Linked DNA regions of Homo sapiens: region 2 is linked to region 1. The links come from fine-mapping of genetic effects on gene expression. A gene starts in region 1. The other region holds a variant in brackets. All regions are shown on one strand. Distances are from middle to middle.

The links.
Region 2: its variant is fine-mapped to the expression of GTF2A1L in gastroesophageal junction (GTEx, PIP above 0.99). The same link has a PIP of 0.9 or more in esophagus muscle, ileum, lung, prostate, sigmoid colon and stomach.

Annotation. Positions count from the first base shown.
Region 1 is chr2:48,613,627-48,622,180 of GRCh38, reverse strand. GTF2A1L (general transcription factor IIA subunit 1 like) reads right to left here and starts at 4,325. Exons shown (of 9, transcript NM_006872.5): 1 at 4,286-4,325; 2 at 1,229-1,330; 3 at 891-1,014. The coding sequence starts at 4,306. STON1-GTF2A1L (STON1-GTF2A1L readthrough) reads right to left here. Exons shown (of 11, transcript NM_001198593.2): 4 at 1,229-1,330; 5 at 891-1,014. RefSeq lists an enhancer at 6,824-7,327.
Region 2 is chr2:48,591,588-48,600,141 of GRCh38, reverse strand. STON1-GTF2A1L (STON1-GTF2A1L readthrough) reads right to left here. Exons shown (of 11, transcript NM_001198593.2): 3 at 8,287-8,489. It overlaps STON1 (stonin 1), which reads right to left. Exons shown (of 4, transcript NM_006873.4): 3 at 8,287-8,489; 4 at 1,629-4,914. The coding sequence ends at 4,840. Among named protein-coding and RNA genes, the nearest start is that of GTF2A1L, 22 kb to the left of the region's middle. The variant C/T (reference allele first, on the strand shown) is at 4,900.

The DNA.
Region 1 (8,554 bases):
GCATCCTTACAATGTTCTCTTCACCTTGGCCCATGTAATTTTCATGTGAATTTTCCCAAGCATGCAAAGAACTATCTGCTTATTACTGATAATCCAATCCAAAATCTACCCTCACTTCTTGCAGACTACTCTGCTGAATTTCAGCTAAACCCAATAAAACTTGTTTGTATGCGAGTATACATTTATATATACACATATGAGTAACATAAAGATTATAAGAATCAGAAGAAAAAGAAAGGAATCAAGCATACAAGGATAGAAAACTCTTAAGTTTTATCTTTTATTAGCTAGTCCCTTCCAGTTTAAATTGATACGCATAATGTGGACAAACATTTCCCTTAAAAGCAGAAGTCTAGATTTGCTAAGTCCAAGAATAAAGATAAATGCACATGATCAATTTCTAGCCATTATTTTATATATCCAAAACAGTGAGGTAGCCTGAATAATCTCCATATTCTGAACTCTCCATTTTGCTCCCAATATATCAGATTTATAATATACACAAAAAATAAGAGAAAGAGAACACACAAACTTGCAAGCACTCACCTTTCCCTCTGCCACTTCTAATCCTTGACTAGACCCAGTCAAATTATCTGAAATTACCAATGGGTGCTCCCAACAGCTGACAAACTATGTGACTTTCCTCTAAAGAAAGGCTTTATCATCTTTGTAAAATTTAATATTTAAAATAAAAACTAGTTCGAATAACCTGAGTTTTTAATCAATAATTACATGGGGCAATGATTTATACTGTGTTCATTTAATAGAAATGATTTAGGTGTCCAAGCCTTCTCACCCTAAGAACATTACCCTGTCTAACTGAAAAACATTCCCAAATGAGAATTTGTTCTGAAGATACTAACAGTACTCATTTACTAATGGTATCCAACCTGTTGACGATTGCAATGTTTGGTGCAAGCTGTGCGGCAACTGAAGAGTAAACAGAGGTGATTGGATGCTATTTCTGAAGAAGTCTTCTGTTGCTTTAGACTGCAAAACCTTGGTTTCCCAGAGCTGCAGAGGGGAAAAAAAAAGTTTACTTTAAAAAAATATATACACATATAATGATACTTCTCTTTTTTTCAGTTTCTTAAAAACTAACGTCATCCTGATGGCACAATGAATGGGTAAGTACTAAACTATAATTTGAGAGATCAGAACTATATCAGTTTTGTATGCTGAAAAAAACAACAAAAGACAGGAAGAAAAAGTTGTATCGGCTACAAACCTGCTTCAAGTCTTTTAAAACTTGTTCCTCTATACCTTCTTCAGCAAATAGATTCCGAACTCCTTCAATTACATCTTCAATTACAGATCTGTAGAGTTTAGGCTACATAAAAGCAATTGTTAAAGTTTCATTTTATTTATTTATTTATTTATTTATTTATTTATTTATTTATTCTTGAGATGGAGTCATGCTCTGTTGCCCAGGCTGGAGTGCGGTGGCACGAACTCAGTTCACTGCAATTTCCACGTCCCAGGTTCAAGCAATTCTCCTGCCTCAGCCTCCTGAGTAGGTGCGATTACAGGTGCATGCCACCATGCCCCGCTAATTTTTGTATTTTTAGAGAGACAGGGTTTCACCATGATGGTCAGGCTGGTCTCGAACTCCTGGCCTCGTGATCCACCCGCCTCAGCCTCCCAAAGTGCTGGGATTACAGGCATGAGCCACCACACCCGGCCTGTTAAAGTTCTGACTTCTCAAGTTAGAACATATTTGGCCTTAAAAGATATGCAGTGCATACCTTCTAGTCTTGTGAAGTCACCATTAAAACTTTTACTATGTACATTCCTATTCCCAATATAGTCTTAGCTTTCCATAAACTGTGTTAGCTTCAGACCCATAGTCTCAGCCTATCTACAAGACTGAATTACAGAACTACAATAACATATGAGCTAATAATCTCAAAGATGCATGGTTATTGTCATGTTACTTGCCTTTTGTGTCAGTATTTAACCTCCTCAACTCCTTTTAAAAGGGAAATTAATGTAAGTCAACCAGAAATAGACCTTCTGTTTTCAATTTACCTCTTTATCAAAGTGGCCAAAGGAGAATTTTTTAGGGTTCACTATATTATTTCCACAAATATAAATAAACTCCAAGCCAGAAAACTGGGGTAAACACTTAAAATAGAGCAATTAAAGCTCATCTCACTTCCAAAATACACAAAGTCCAAAAAATATATATTCTGGACCATTATCAAATACACCTGTTCCAAAACGGATTTCCTACCAGAACCTAAGAAGGGCACGAACAACCTTACCCATCCACAGTGTGCATACTGAAGAGACCAAATAACATTCTAAAATACCTCCTAGTCAAACATGCCATGACAATGAAATTAAGCAGATTTCTACCCAGATTAAACACTAGTTATAGCAACAAAAAAGAGGGTATGTGAAAAAACTCAGCCCTTCATATCTATATAAACTATGCCCCCAGGCCAAAATGGCAATGCTATGTGCTGACAATACTGACTTAGTGGAAGTTCCACCGGCAAGAAACAGCAAAGCAGGAATTTAGTTGAGTTGCTCTTATTTCAAATTGCTTAATCACGCCAAAATGAAAATTGTGGCACTCTAGGATTGCCTTTTCATCCTACCCTATTCAGTACTCATTAAGAGTACTAAATAAATACTCCTAAATACTCCTGTTCATGCCAAGAGTAGCTGTGCTTTTTTTTTATTATTATTATTATTTTTTTTTTTTTGAGATGGAGTCTTGCTCTGTCACCCAGGCTGGAGTACGGTAGCACAATCTGGGCCCACTGCAACATCTGCCTCCTAAGTTCAAGTGATTCTCCTGTCTCAGCATCCAGAGTAGCTGGCACTACAGGCGTGCACGACCTCACCTGGCTAATTTTTTGTATTTTTAGTAGAGATGGGGTTTCACCATGTTGGCCAGGCTGGTCTCAAACTCCTAAGCTCAAGTGATCTGCCCACCTCGACCTTCCAAGGTGCTGGGATTACAGGTGTAAGCCACCGTGCCCAGCCCCTAAGAGTATTTAGTATTTAAAGCTATGCTTTAATCCTTCTAAAGACCCAGGGTAAACCTATACGAATAGGCCAATCAGTAACATTTAAATAATGTTATTCACAAGCACATGCATTAAGACTAAATGCCCCTAAATTAGGTGCTTCTTCTAAAACAGTTTATCCTGATAAAGGCATACTAAATTGATGCTTCAGTGGTAGTCCCAGCTAGTGTGATCACGCTTAACACCGAAGGAAAAAACTCTTAGGTCTAAAAAATCTTAACACAGCAGTAGTCAAAAAGTACCCATTAGAACACAGTTTTTCAGAAATCAAAATAGGTATTGAACATATTTTCTCTTCTATGACCACAGACTTTGTATTGCATCCCTGTTATTAAAACTATGTCTAGTCCATCTTAACTCCTCTATTTAAAATACAGACACTCCTTCATAGAATTCACAATCAGATAAATTGGCATACATAGTAACCTTATATTCAGGCAGAGTATAGGTATTTTATGTATCTTAAAACGCACTATCATAAAACACATATAATTAAAGTAGCATGTCTCTAAAAATGGAGCTGTTATACTGCATATATAATACCCGGAACCCATAAAATTACACAGATCTGGACAGGCACATTGCCTTTCACGAAATGTGAAGTCTGTTGAGATGAATTGGTAATAAAGATGAATCCTTGATTTTTGTTCTTTGATTCAGGTTTTTAAGATTGATGGTCTCCTAAGTGCCACTGAGACTAGAAATTCTCACTGTGCAAATTAAGTGTCCGTTAGAGGTAGGAGGGTAATGTAGGTTGTACACTTAAGCATTAAGTTGTTAAAGGACAACGAAATGGGCGGGTAGTGAAAGACACTAAAAACATGTGGGGAGGTAACATGAGATATCACATTGTTATTTCAAGCAGTAAATAATACAGCTTGGAATTAACAATGTCCACGGTAAAATTAACACAACCGAACTTGGAGGTTTTCTAGTATCTAGGAAACCAGCAGGGTTGAGGATCAGTTCCACCTCTAAACACCCCAACTAGATAGCCTCAGTTTGGGTAAAAAGAGAAAAAGGGCACTTGTTCTTTTGGCGGGGCTGGCCCAACTTCCTGCTGAACTACTGGCCCTCAGCAGCTTCCTCCAACACAGACGTGAAGAAGAGCCCCAGCCCCTAAGGAAGAGAGAGGGTTTATGACAATCTGTAAAGTGTCAGGGGGAAACAAAAGGTGCAGGGTTCGGCTGCCGTGAACCCGGAGTCCCAGGGCGCTCCCTCTACACAGAGCCTGAGGTCTTCCTTACCACCGGGTTGAGGCAGGCCATGACAGCACCTCCAGCACCTGGCCCTTTGCGCCTGCGCGGCACGCAGTGCCCTCGGAGGGAAACACTGGGCACGTTTTGAACGATGTACGTCAGGTGCGCAACCACGGAGAACGCCGGGGGCGTGGCTGGGCAGAAGAGAACGTTAATAGATGGAGCGGGTTTGAGTGGAGGTGGGGGTCAAGGCGGAGAGGCGGTCGGCCTGTGTGAGAAAAGAGACCCGCTAAAACGGATGGTTAGGTTGGGTCTAGCCGGCTTTGGGCCGTTCACAGGTTGTTTCCTCAATCCGTGAAAGATGAAAATCGAGGAGGGGAAATGCAGGGGTAGATCTCAGTCTAACTTCAGCTTTGAAGAAGATGGGGAAAGAAAAGAGGGGAGACTAGTGATATCTGTCCTCTGCATTTACCAATTTTCATTCCTCCCCCTACACCCCACTCACAGCTGAACTCCATTTTTTGTTGTATAAAAATATAACAAGAGCCAAATTTTTCTAAGACTTGTCAGCGTGGTACAGCAGCATCAGCAGCATCTGGGAACTTGTTAAATATGCAAATGATGGGTCCCACCCCAGCCCTCCTGAATCAGACTGGAGGATGGAGCCTAGCATTCTGTAACTTTAACATGCTCTCCAGGTGATTCCAATGGGCGCTGACATGAGACCCCCTGACCTAAGACAAAGAGTCTCAATTTTGGGTGCACATTAAAATCACGCGGGGAGCTTTAAAAAAAAGTTTAGTGCCTGGATCCCACTCGGCAAAATCTGATTCTAATATGCAGCCAAGGTGGAAAACCACTGCTAAAAGAAAGTCAGCAGCTAATACGTTCCTATCTCCTTTTCTTAGTTAGGCAGAAATCACCAGCTGTCTACCTACAATAATTCTCTCTCCTGAAGGGCAGAGCATCTTGGGGCATACGTTACCTAGCTAAGACTGAGGGAAGATGTAAGCACAGATAACCTGGAGGATTAGAAAAGGGAAGAAGTCACCATCTGTTGCCACAACTCTGCCTTTTTGGCAGGGTCTCACACTGTTGCCCAGGCTGCAGTGCAGTGGCATGATCACAGCTCGCTGCAGCGTCTACCTCCTGGGCTCAAGCAACCCACTGACTTCAGCCTCCCAAGGAGCTGAGACTACAGGTGTGTGTGCCACCACGCCCAGCTATTTTGTGTGTGTGAGTGTGTGTGTGTGTTTTGTAGAGACAGGTTTTCGCCATGTTGCCCAGGCTGGTCTCAAACTCTTGGTCTCAAGTGATCCACCAGCCGCAGCCTCCCAAAGTGCTGGAACTATAGGCATGACTCGCCGCACTTGGCCACAACTCTTCTAAACAGCCTTTCTATCCTGCAAATAGGTCTTGACCTAACCAGATGGATACGTTATTTGATGATTAAAAACTCTATTATATTTAAAATTGGCTGTTTATTTATTTATTTGTGCAAGTAAGTGCAGTAGAGCTGTTTATCCCCTACCACTGTGTATGTGATTTGCCTGGGTCAGGTACCTTATGGTTTGTGAGTTTCAAGTAGCTGATTTATATGATACCCTTTAGAAAACTTTCCTACATTGAAAACTATTAGAAATTTCTTTTACAAAAAGCCAAGAACTATATATGGTCATTTTAATGGTCATATCTCTCCACCTGGCAATTTACTACCAGGAGTGTTCAAAGTGACTTATCTTTCACCCAAAGTAGGAAAGCTAAAAGCAGTCATTGATTCCTACTGATATTATAAAATCCAATTAAATTATTCAAGCTGGGAAATAAGAAAGCTAAAAGTGTCTCTTGTTTTCCATCTTTTTCATAGGAAGGTTTTAAAGCTTTATTTCTAAATGCTTAGGATTGGTAATCACCTAACTTTCTGTGACAGCATACTGTTTTACTTTATTACACATTCTGCCCTTCTCAGAACTATACGTAGATCATGTATATTTTTTAAATTATTCTTGGATCTTGGTACCCATAAAAAGTGTAACTAAAAGTTGAATTGTTATTTCTTAGTACAGTCAGTATACTCAAGTTATGGAGAGGCTATGTAATGTTAGCAGAGAAATGTCAGCAAATTTCATTTGCCCCTTGCAGTTTGTCTGAATGGTCACTAGTCATTTCTTCCCAATAACAGGCAATGACTACTAGAGGAGGTATGCTTTAACACAAGTTCTAGGTAAATCCAAGTTGCAAATCTGCCACGTGGACCTGTGGTAGCCAGTTTTCAAGATGGCCCCCAGTGATCCCTGCCTCCTGGTATTGACCACTTGGTGTTGTCCCCTCCTACCTTGTACCATGGTAGGTTTATTTTACCACTAAAATAAAGAAGAAGTAGGTCTCCCTCTCCCTCTCCCGTCTCCCTCTCCCTCTCCCGTCTCCCTCTCCCTCTCCCGTCTCCCTCTCCCTCTCCCGTCTCCCTCTCCCTCTCCTTTCCACGGTCTCCCTCTCATGCCGGGCCAAAGCTGGACTGTACTGCTGCCATCTCGGCTCGCTGCAGCCTCCCTGCCTGATTCTCCTGCCTCAGCCTGCCGAGTGCCTGCGATTGCAGGCGCGCGCCGCCACGCCTGACTGGTTTTCGTGTTTTTTTGGTGGGGACGGGGTTTCGCTGTGTTGGCCGGACTGGTCTCCACCTCCTAGCCGCCAGTGATCCGCCAGCCTCGGCCTCCCGAGGTGCCGGGATTGCAGACGGAGTCTCATTCATTCAGTGCTCAATGGTGCCCAGGCTGGAGTGCAGTGGCGTGATCTCGGCTCGCTACGGCCTCCACCTCCCAGCCGCCTGCCTTGGCCTCCCAAAGTGCGGAGATTGCAGCCTCTGCCCGGCCGCCACCCCGTCTGGGAAGTGAGGAGCGTCTCTGCCGGGCTGCCCATCCTCTGGGAAGTGAGGAGCGTCTCTGCCTGGCTGCCCAGTCTGGAAAGTGAGGAGCGTCTCTGCCCGGCCGCCATCCCACCTGGGAAGTGAGGAGCACCTCGTCCGGGCCCCCATCCCATCTAGGAAGTGAGGAGCGTCTCTGCCCAGCAGCCCATCGTCTGAGATGTGGGGAGCGCCTCTGCCCCGCCGCCCCGTCTGGGATGTGAGGAGGGCCTCGGCCCGGCCGCGACCCCGTCTGGGAGGTGAGGAGCGTCTCTGCCAGGCCGCCCCGTCTGAGAAGTGAGGAGACCCTCCGCCTGGCAACCGCCCCGTCTGAGAAGTGAGGAGCCCCTCCGCCTGGCAACCGCCCCGTCTGGGAAGTGAGGAGCGTCTCCGCCCAGCAGCCGCCCCGTCCGGGAGGGAGGTGGGGGGCTCAGCCCCCCGCCCGGCCAGCCGCCCCGTCCGGGAGGTGAGGGGCGCCTCTGCCCGGCCGCCCCTACTGGGAAGTGAGGAGCCCCTCTGCCCAGCCAGGAGCCCCTCTGCCCAGCCAGCCGCCCCGTCCGGGAGGGAGGTGGGGGGGTCAGCCCCCCGCCTGGCCAGCCACCCAGTCCGGGAGCTGAGGGGCGCCTCTGCCCGGCCACCCCTACTGGGAAGTGAGGAGCCCCTCTGCCCGGCCACCACCCCGTCTGGGAGGTGTACCCAACAGCTCATTGAGAATGGGCCATGATGACGATGGCAGTTTTCTGGAATAGAAAAGGGGGCAAGGTGGGGAAAAGATTGAGAAATCGAATGGTTGCCGTGTCTGTGTAGAAAGAAGTAGACATGGGAGACTTTTCATTTTGTTCTGTACTAAGAAAAATTCTTCTGCCTTGGGATCCTGTTGATCTATGACCTTACCCCCAACCCTGTGCTCTCTGAAACATGTGCTGTGTCCACTCAGGGTTAAATGGATTAAGGGCGGTGCAAGATGTGCTTTGTTAAACAGATGCTTGAAGGCAGCATGCTCATTAAGAGTCATCACCACTCCCTAATCTCAAGTACCCAGGGACACAAACACTCTGCCTAGGAAAACAGAGACCTTTGTTCACTTGTTTGTCTGCTGACCTTCCCTCCACTAGTGTCCTATGACCCTGCCAAATCCCCCTCTGTGAGAAACACCCAAGAATGATCAATAAAAAAAAAAATTAAATTAAAATAAAAAAAAAAAAGAAGAAGTAGTAGCATATCACCTTTGAGATAAGGTTATTCATAGCTGTGGATTCTTTCTTGGGCTCACTCTCTCATTTTGGAGGAAGCCAGCTGTCATGTCATGAGGATACTCAGGTAGCTTATGGAGGGGTCTATTTGGCAAGGAACTGAGACTCCAGCCCACAGTCAGCAAGTATGAGAAACCCTCAAACAGTCACATAAGTAAGTTCGGA
Region 2 (8,554 bases), 22 kb after region 1:
CAGTTTTCCTTTTCCTTACAGAGGAAAATGATTACATTCCTTACAGATGATTTTAAAGGCACAATATTATCTGTAGCTTGTATCTATGGATTTTTGTAATTCAACTATTTGCTTCTTGACTAGCAACTCTGTCTTGCTTTAAAAATTAGTCAAATTCATATTTCATTGCCATTTCTAAGCAGGATAACAAAAAGTGCTTGTATCATATGACCTAGGGAAATATGTGGATAATTAGATTGAGCCCGTGAAATTCCCATCAAGAAAGGTAAATATTGGCGATTACATATGATTCAACAGAATACACATAACCCTGTGTTTTAGGGCCCTGGCTAAGGGTATAAGTTCCTTGGAATACAGTAGTTGCAGAGGATGGGGAGGGTCTAGGAGAGACAACATCAAAATCTACCCTGTGTCTACACAAAAGCGGTGGGACAGTCTAGCCAGAGTTGAGACAAAACAGGGAAGAATTGATTGATGGGATTTTGAGGACTGTTGTTACAAATATGGTCAGTTTTTGCCAGTCAATCCTTTTGCTGTTCCTGAAGAACTAGGGCCAAGCCTTGTGAGTGCTAGCAGTGGCTAAAATGGTGCTTCATGCTCTGTCTTCTATGAAGTACTGATGCCTTTTTGAAATATTAACTTTAGTAGCTCAATAAAAATTTAATTTCAACACAAGGCAGATTTCTTATAAAAAGGAGGGTGGAGAGGTTGTTAGGTTCGTCCTTTATAAGCACTGATTCCCTTCATATCTCCTACAGCCTCCCTCCACTCCCGCACAACTCTCCTCCACTCTCCCCCAACTCCCTACCACCCACACGTATATCTTACCTGATATATATTCTGTGCAATTTTGTAAAACTGGTTTTCTAAACTTTAAAAATGTGGCTTTTAGGTGCACATTAATTCTACAGGACTACTCTACAAGTTGCCAAAGGTTGAAAATTCCATGGAATTCTGTGGACAAAGTTTTTCCTGTTTTCAAGGAAAAATTGTGAAAGGCTTTGAATAGTGGTAATCTTATGCATGTATTCATTTCATATATTTCTTTTTTTTTTTTTTTTTTTTTTTTTGAGATGGAGTCTCACTCTGTTGCCCAGACTGGAGTGCAGTGGCGCAATCTCTGCTCACTGCAAGCTCCGCCTCCCGGGTTCACACCATTCTCCTGCCTCAGCCTCCCCAGTAGCTGGGACTATAGGCGCCCGCCACCACGCCCAACTAATTTTTTTTTTTTTTTTTTTTTTTTTTTTGTATTTTTAGTAGAGACGGGGTTTCACCGTGTTAGCCAGTATGGTCTTGATCTTCTGACCTCATGATCCACCCGCTTCAGCCTCCCAAAGAGCTGGGATTACAGGCGTGAGCCACCACACCCAGCCTCATATCTTTGTGAGTCATGATTATACCCTATTTTTAAAATCATCCTTTATAACATTATCAACTATACTTTGATGATGTCATTTTTCCAGGATATGCAAAGAGGTCATGGTCACTGACTCCTTAAGAGTGGAGCCTGACATATGCCTGACAGAGGGTCAATTGTTTAAGGTTATTGAAATTGATTTCATACCTTAAGAAAAAAAAATAGCCCCAGGTCTTGCAGAAGAAGATATAAATTCACAGCACAGTAAGAATAGTTTGAAATACATTTTTAATTTTTGAAAAATCAATATGTAATCTACAAAATATTTTGTTACATGATTAAGGCTCAACCTGTCTTATATTTGCATTGACAGAATACAAAACTGTATTTTAAGTAAGACATTATAATAGTCATTGTTAAGGAAGTCCTTCTAACTGACTTTATAAGAAAAGGGGCTGTATCACAAGCATAGCTCTGGAATGAAGGGAACTAACATCCTAGAACTGTCTAATATATACATCAGGTTGTAAAATTCCAGCCTTTATTTATGTGCTGGAAAGTATCTTTTTTACATATCTTTTTTTAGTGGATAAACTCTTGTGATTCCCACAGAAAAAGGAAATGTTCTTAAATTCAGATCTGCACAAATCATCTACCCATGAATTCATTTACACAGTTAATATGATCCTGTAACTGGAAAGGTGACCAGACTAGTCACAAACTGGTCAACTCCTTGGAAGTCTGCTCATTTGACTCCAAAATGGTCAAACTCACAATGGAGTGATCTAAGCAAAATGAATGCTAGAAAGGAATATTTCCTCCCTCATTCCTTTCCTTCCCCGCTTCCCTCCCCTAAAAGCAAGGGTTTTTTGAAGATCACTATTCCGGCAAGGGCAGTTCTACTTAATTTGAACCCTACCTGATTTTTCACCTAGAGTTCTGTAGTCACATCTGACCTTCTGCCAGTTCTGAGGTCAGAAGAATTGAATAAGCCTCCCCTCCCTACACAGAATGTTAATTTAACATTAAGTAATGAATATTTAAGGATCCTAATAGATGTGCGAATTAACAATTATGCTGTAACACCCTGCTGTTAATGCTATCAGCTTCTGCATTGCCACAGACAATCCATTTGGGCTTTAGTCCAGCTTTTGCTATTATATTGTCAAGACTGAATCTTGAGATGTCCTGAAGGCCCGGTGGCTTGTGAGTGAATAACCTGGGCAGGGAGGTACCCACAGATACTAGTCAACCTGTGAAGCATGAGGGGCAACTAAGTGAACCCTTTGCTGAATATATTTTGAGGTGTAAATAGTCATTAAGTTCATCCTAATCAGACTGTGAGTTCTTTGTGGGCAGGATGCCATAAAACACACTTAGAAAGGAATGGCAGTAATTAACCCACCTAACTTCACTGGGACTGTGGGCAGCATCAGTTTCGGCCGGCCTCCACATTCGTTCTGAGCAGACTGAAGTCACTGTAGAGTGCGCCCACACCAGATGATAAAGAAAGATGGTAGAATTTTTTTAATGACATACACACACAGATTTGCCCTACTCTACATCAACAGTGAGCCTCAAGCATATGATATTATAAGCAAGGCATCAAATGAAGTTAAAAAGAGCAATAGCGGCCGGGCATGGTGGCTCACGCATTTAATCCCAGAACTTTGGGAGGCCGAGGCTGGTGGATCACCTGAGGTCAGGAGTTCGAGACTAGCCCGGCCAACATGGGGAAACTCCGTCTGTAGTAAAAATACAAAAGAATTTTAGCCAGGCATGGTGGCTTGTGCCTGTAATCCCAGCTAGTTGGAGGCTGAGGCAGGAGAATCCCTTGAACCCAGGAGGCGGAGGTTGCAGTGAGCCAAGATGACACACTGCACTCCAGGCTGGGCAACAGAGTGAGACTCTGTCTCAAAAAAAGTAAAAAATAAAAACAGCAATAACAATTCCTTTCAACCAACCATCACCTATTGCATTCTTTGCCTTTACAGTAAAATAATGAAAAGCAATAAAATCTGCTGATTGATACAGACCATCATAAATGTTTGTCTTAATCTGTTTTTGAACAGATTTCAATGAATGTAATATAATATTAAATATTAAAAAAAACACATGAAATAAACTCTGTAGGCCAACACATAAATGTTGTTTGGAAGAACACTAAATCAGTTTTGACTCAAAACAAATCTAGCAAATAGAGAAAAATATCTCCTAATTATGTTTAAGACTCAACATAAATTGAAGGTATATTAATACCACATGGGGGAGTTTGTTTTTCAGACTAAAAACAATACCTGGAATATAGATTTCATAAATTTTAAAATTCTCACTTTTCACTGTAAATGCTGAAAGGAAATTATAAACAGAATTATAACTGCTAATGCTATTGACTTTTCATTAGAAACCAAACTATTATAGTCATTTACCTGACTCTGAAGAATAAAAATGTTGCCACTTAGAAATCTGGGTAAAATACCAAGTATCTTTCACTTTGCTCACCTTTTAATGAAAAATACTCTAAAATAAGCAGAATTAGCATAAAACAGCATGATAGCAGAACTAGTATAAAATAATCATAATGTGATTTAGACTTCTACTCAAGAGAGGCTTGTGTTCATTACAAATAATACTTTATCAAAATATGTCCTTAGAGTCTGTACTTTTGGAAAATAGTATTTATAAATTTTAAAAATTCATATTTAATATACACAAATATGTTAACTAGTGTCTAATACTCAGATTCCATTTTGAAAGGAATCCTGCCAAGTGAAAGGAAATATGTCTTAGTGATTTATACTAAAATATGTAGGACAACAGAAATAGCTTCTTTGCAGCACGCGCCAGAAAACAAACACATTTTGAAAATGACAATACAGTAGGAGAGAGACAGGTACCAAATATAGCCAATTATTATTTACCAACGGTAAGAGGACAGGTAAATAAGTAATTCAAAAGCACAGATACTTCCAGATCTACATTTTAGCCTGTGGTTTCAACATCATTCTACACCTAGCCACATTTCAGAGGCAAGAAAGAGGGAAAATTAACTATTTTGGTTTATGTCTCCTTTGATTCCCTTACCCTCTAGTACAGACACTAAGCAGCAAGAAGAGATGGGAAGAAATGAAGACGGCACCTCAGTAATCCAGAGAGCAAAACAGTCAGCCACTGAGTAATCAAAAATCATACTGGCTGCGGGGTCACACAACGAGTAACAGTGCCTTTGAGTTTCAATAGGAAGCAAAACATCACACGAATTATAGAAACATTTTAGATCGAACCCCTAGGACAAAAACACATGAAAAGCAAAAAATACAGATTGTTCGGTTTTAGGTCTAAACTTCTCTAAACACAGCCATCAGACCTGTCCTAAAACCGCTATTCAGAAGTCATTTCCACTCTACAGTAGCAGGACTTGGTGTGGTTTCGGTGAATTACATATTTGACAAGTGGGCTGTCATCATAAACTCTTGCTACTCCTACTGAGTTATGCAGTCACCAATTTTATCTGGGTCTTCTCCATCGATTTTAATCCACTT[C/T]TTTTCTATTTCAACCTGTTATGCAAAAGCAAAACACAGGCAGCATTAACAAATGCAACACAGCACTCACACCTCTTCAGTCCTATTTTATACATGTGGCACAGACTGCACAAACCTCACCCTTTGGACACAGACACAGCCCTCTACCCTCCTACAGTAGCTTCCAAGTGAGGCGCTCTGCTCTCCTTTTGAACAACAGAGCCCCTCAAATCCTCCCCGCCAGGGTCAAGTCTTCAAGAGCACCAAAACTGTCTTCTAAGTCAAACGTAGTTTTTATAAAATGTATACAGAATATGTATACTGAAAAAAAATTTACAGATCTGACTAGACATATGATCAATTATCCCTCTACCTGAATATATGGCTGTATCATGTATCTAGCCATTGGCCCCCTTAAGATTTATAATGCACCCAAAATTATCTAATTGAAACAAGCCATCTTACAAACTATTAGGTTGCTGCAAAACTAATGGCAAAAACCGTGATTACTTTTGCAGCAACCTAATAGTAAACCATCTGCTCTTCATCATTTTTGTCTCAGCTCAAATGTCACATCCTCCTGGAGGTCCTCCAGGACTACCCCTGATAAAGCCCTCCAGTCACTCTCTATCCCGTTACCCTATTTTATTACCTTCTTGGAATTTGTTATTAGTTGAAATCATATTTATTTATTTATTTATCTACTAACTATTTTTCGTTTACCCCCACTAGAAACTATGCTCCATGAGGACAGGGACTTTGTCTCTCTGTTCACACTGCTGTGTCCCTGCATGTGGAGCAGTATCTGGCAACAGATAATTACTAAATGGAAGAAAACATTTTGAAACTGCCACCAGGTGCACATCAACTAGTAAATGCTACTAAAGCAAGAGATACTTTGTAAAGTAATTTTTAATTGTCCACTAAAATTGCATGAACCTGGCATGCCCTGTGAATAGGAAAATAAGTATAAACACAGTCTCCATGCCACTTGACCCACATTTCAGTCACACATAATATATATATACCTAGTGTTATAGGTCAGGTTCCCCAAGAAATAAACTCTGAGATGGAGATCTGTGTGCAGAAAGTTTACTGGAGAGTGCCGTTGAGTTCAACATTCATGGGGGAGTGAGGCAGGAAATGAAGCTAAATGGGCAGAGAGAGAAGCTGGGATGCAATGTAGTCAGAATGAAGGCTTCTGTCCATGCCCTGGAGAGCTGAAGCTGGGCTGACCTACAGCGTTAGCCCAAGTTGATGCAAAGGGGCCTATACACCCCTGCATAGATTCCAGGAAGGAGGCATGACCTCAGGAAAGGCAGCTATCTTCAGCGGCGGCAATTCCCACCTGCTGGGGAAATACATCCTTCAGGTCTGAAGGGGCTGCACAGGACAGCACTACCTATCATTACTTTTATCAGTAGAAAAAGATAACTGGACCCAAACATAGACTTCTAAACAGATAGTCCAAAATAAAGAAAAATCCTGACTCACATTACTATAGTATAGGAAACCCAGTTGATATTAGCGATGTCATGTATAATATCACTATTTTTAATAGAAATAAATTAGTAGAAAATCAGAATGGCATTAATCTTTGCTGCAAGTCAAGCAACACATAGATTTTAAAATGCTATTTGAGAGGCACATGTTCTCAGGACCTCCTGAGGGCTGTGTAACAGGCAAAATTTAAATTTTTAAAAATAAAATAAATGCTATTAGAAATTATAAAATGTTGCTCATGTGAAAGACAGAAGGGAAACATACATTCTAAACTGAACCACCTGTCTGTAATGCACTATTTAATTTTTGTGATTTTTGAAATATTTTCTAGTTAAAAATACTTTTAGGCCAGGTGTGGTGGCTCACACCTCTAATCCCAGCACTTTGGGAGGCCGAGGCAGACAGATCACAAGGTCAGGAGTTCGAGACCAGCCTGGCCAACATGGTGAAACCCCATCTCTACTATAAACACAAAAAATTAGCCAGGCGTGGTGGCAGGCACCTGTAATCCCAGCTACTCGGGAGGCTGAGGCAGGAGAATTACTTGAACCTAGGAAGCGGAGGTTGCAGTGAGCCGAGACCATGCCACTGCACTCCAACCTGGGCAACAGAGCAAGACTCTGTCTCAAAATAAAGAAAACCTTTTAAACAAAATCAGCAAGATGCATCACCATTTCAAGATACTGTGGGAAATATGTGGCAGGAGACATCCATATATCTACTAAACTTGAGGATAAGAAGGGAAAACAAGTTTAGAAACAGATGTAAGTGTATGTCCTCCTTTAGTTCATCTGCCTAAGAATGCAGAAGAGCTGATGGCAAACATTTAAAACTACCATAATACCAGGCTGGATACGGTGGCTCACGCTTGTAATCCCAGCACTTTGGGAGGCCGAGGCAGGAGGATCACTTGAGACCAGGAATTTGAGACCAGCCTGACCAACATAGTGAGATCCCATCTCTATTTAAAAATTTAAAATAAAACTTTAAGCTACCAATAGGCTAGGCATGGTGGCTTACGCCTGTAATCCCAGCACTTGGGGAGGCCGAGAGGGTCAGATTACCTAAGGTCGGGAGTTTGAGACCAGCCTGGCCAACATGGCAAAACCCCATCTCTACTAAAAATAGAATAATAATAATAATAATAATAATAATAATAATAATAGCTGGGTGTGGTGGTGGGTGGCTGTAATCCCAGTTACTTGAGAGGCTGAGGCAGGAGAATCGCTTGGACCCAGGAGGCGGAGGTTGCAGTGAGCCAAGATAATGCCACTGCACTCCAGCCTGGGTGACAGAGTGAGATGCCGTCTTAAAAAAAAAAAAACTGAAAACTACCATAATAGAGTAACTCAGCATTTCCTAAAGCATGCTCCACAGAACACTATTCCACAAGATAGGGATAAGTGTTTTACATACACATACCCACAAAGACAAGACACAATAGCCAATGAGTTGGGAAAAACTGGGTTAACTAAGTTTAACAAGTTTCCTTATTGCAGGACTTCTTGGGAGCCTTTATTTAACATTAATTTAGTATACGGCATTCCCCAACTTATTCTTTTGTTGGATAATTATATGGGACACATGTTCTGCAGCACATATTTTGAGAAATGGTGTCCTAACATCATAATTTTTATTATAAATATGCTTCTAAAATGTAGATTCATTTTTAATGTCCTGTTTTTCATTGAGAGCTAAATTATTAAGTGTTCCCAACATTCTCCAGAATGGATAGGAAGAACTAAGCTCAATGGTGGCCATCAAGTTTCCATAGCTGAGATCCTCTCTAGGGCAAATCTCACCACACATATACACACACACACAACACATACACGATCACAAAAGACAGCAAAACAAATATTTAAAGCCAAATCAGGTCACAGTTCTAGAAGTTTTGGGATGTACCTGGATGTTGTAGCAAGCTCGCTGCTGAACATGTTTCTGTGGCTGGACATCACTCTCCACTCCCAGAGACCTGACCTCTGTCCTTGAGGCACAGGTGTCAGGCACGGAAAACTGAACAGTAGCAAATGGATACCAATCAGAGGGAATTTCTTGGTCTGATCCAAGCTCTAATTTGTATGACAGACAATGGGGATGATCTAGACCTCGAGGGAAAAAAAATCAAATAGTCAAAGTATTTTAATGGCCATTGAACATTTCTCTTGAACAT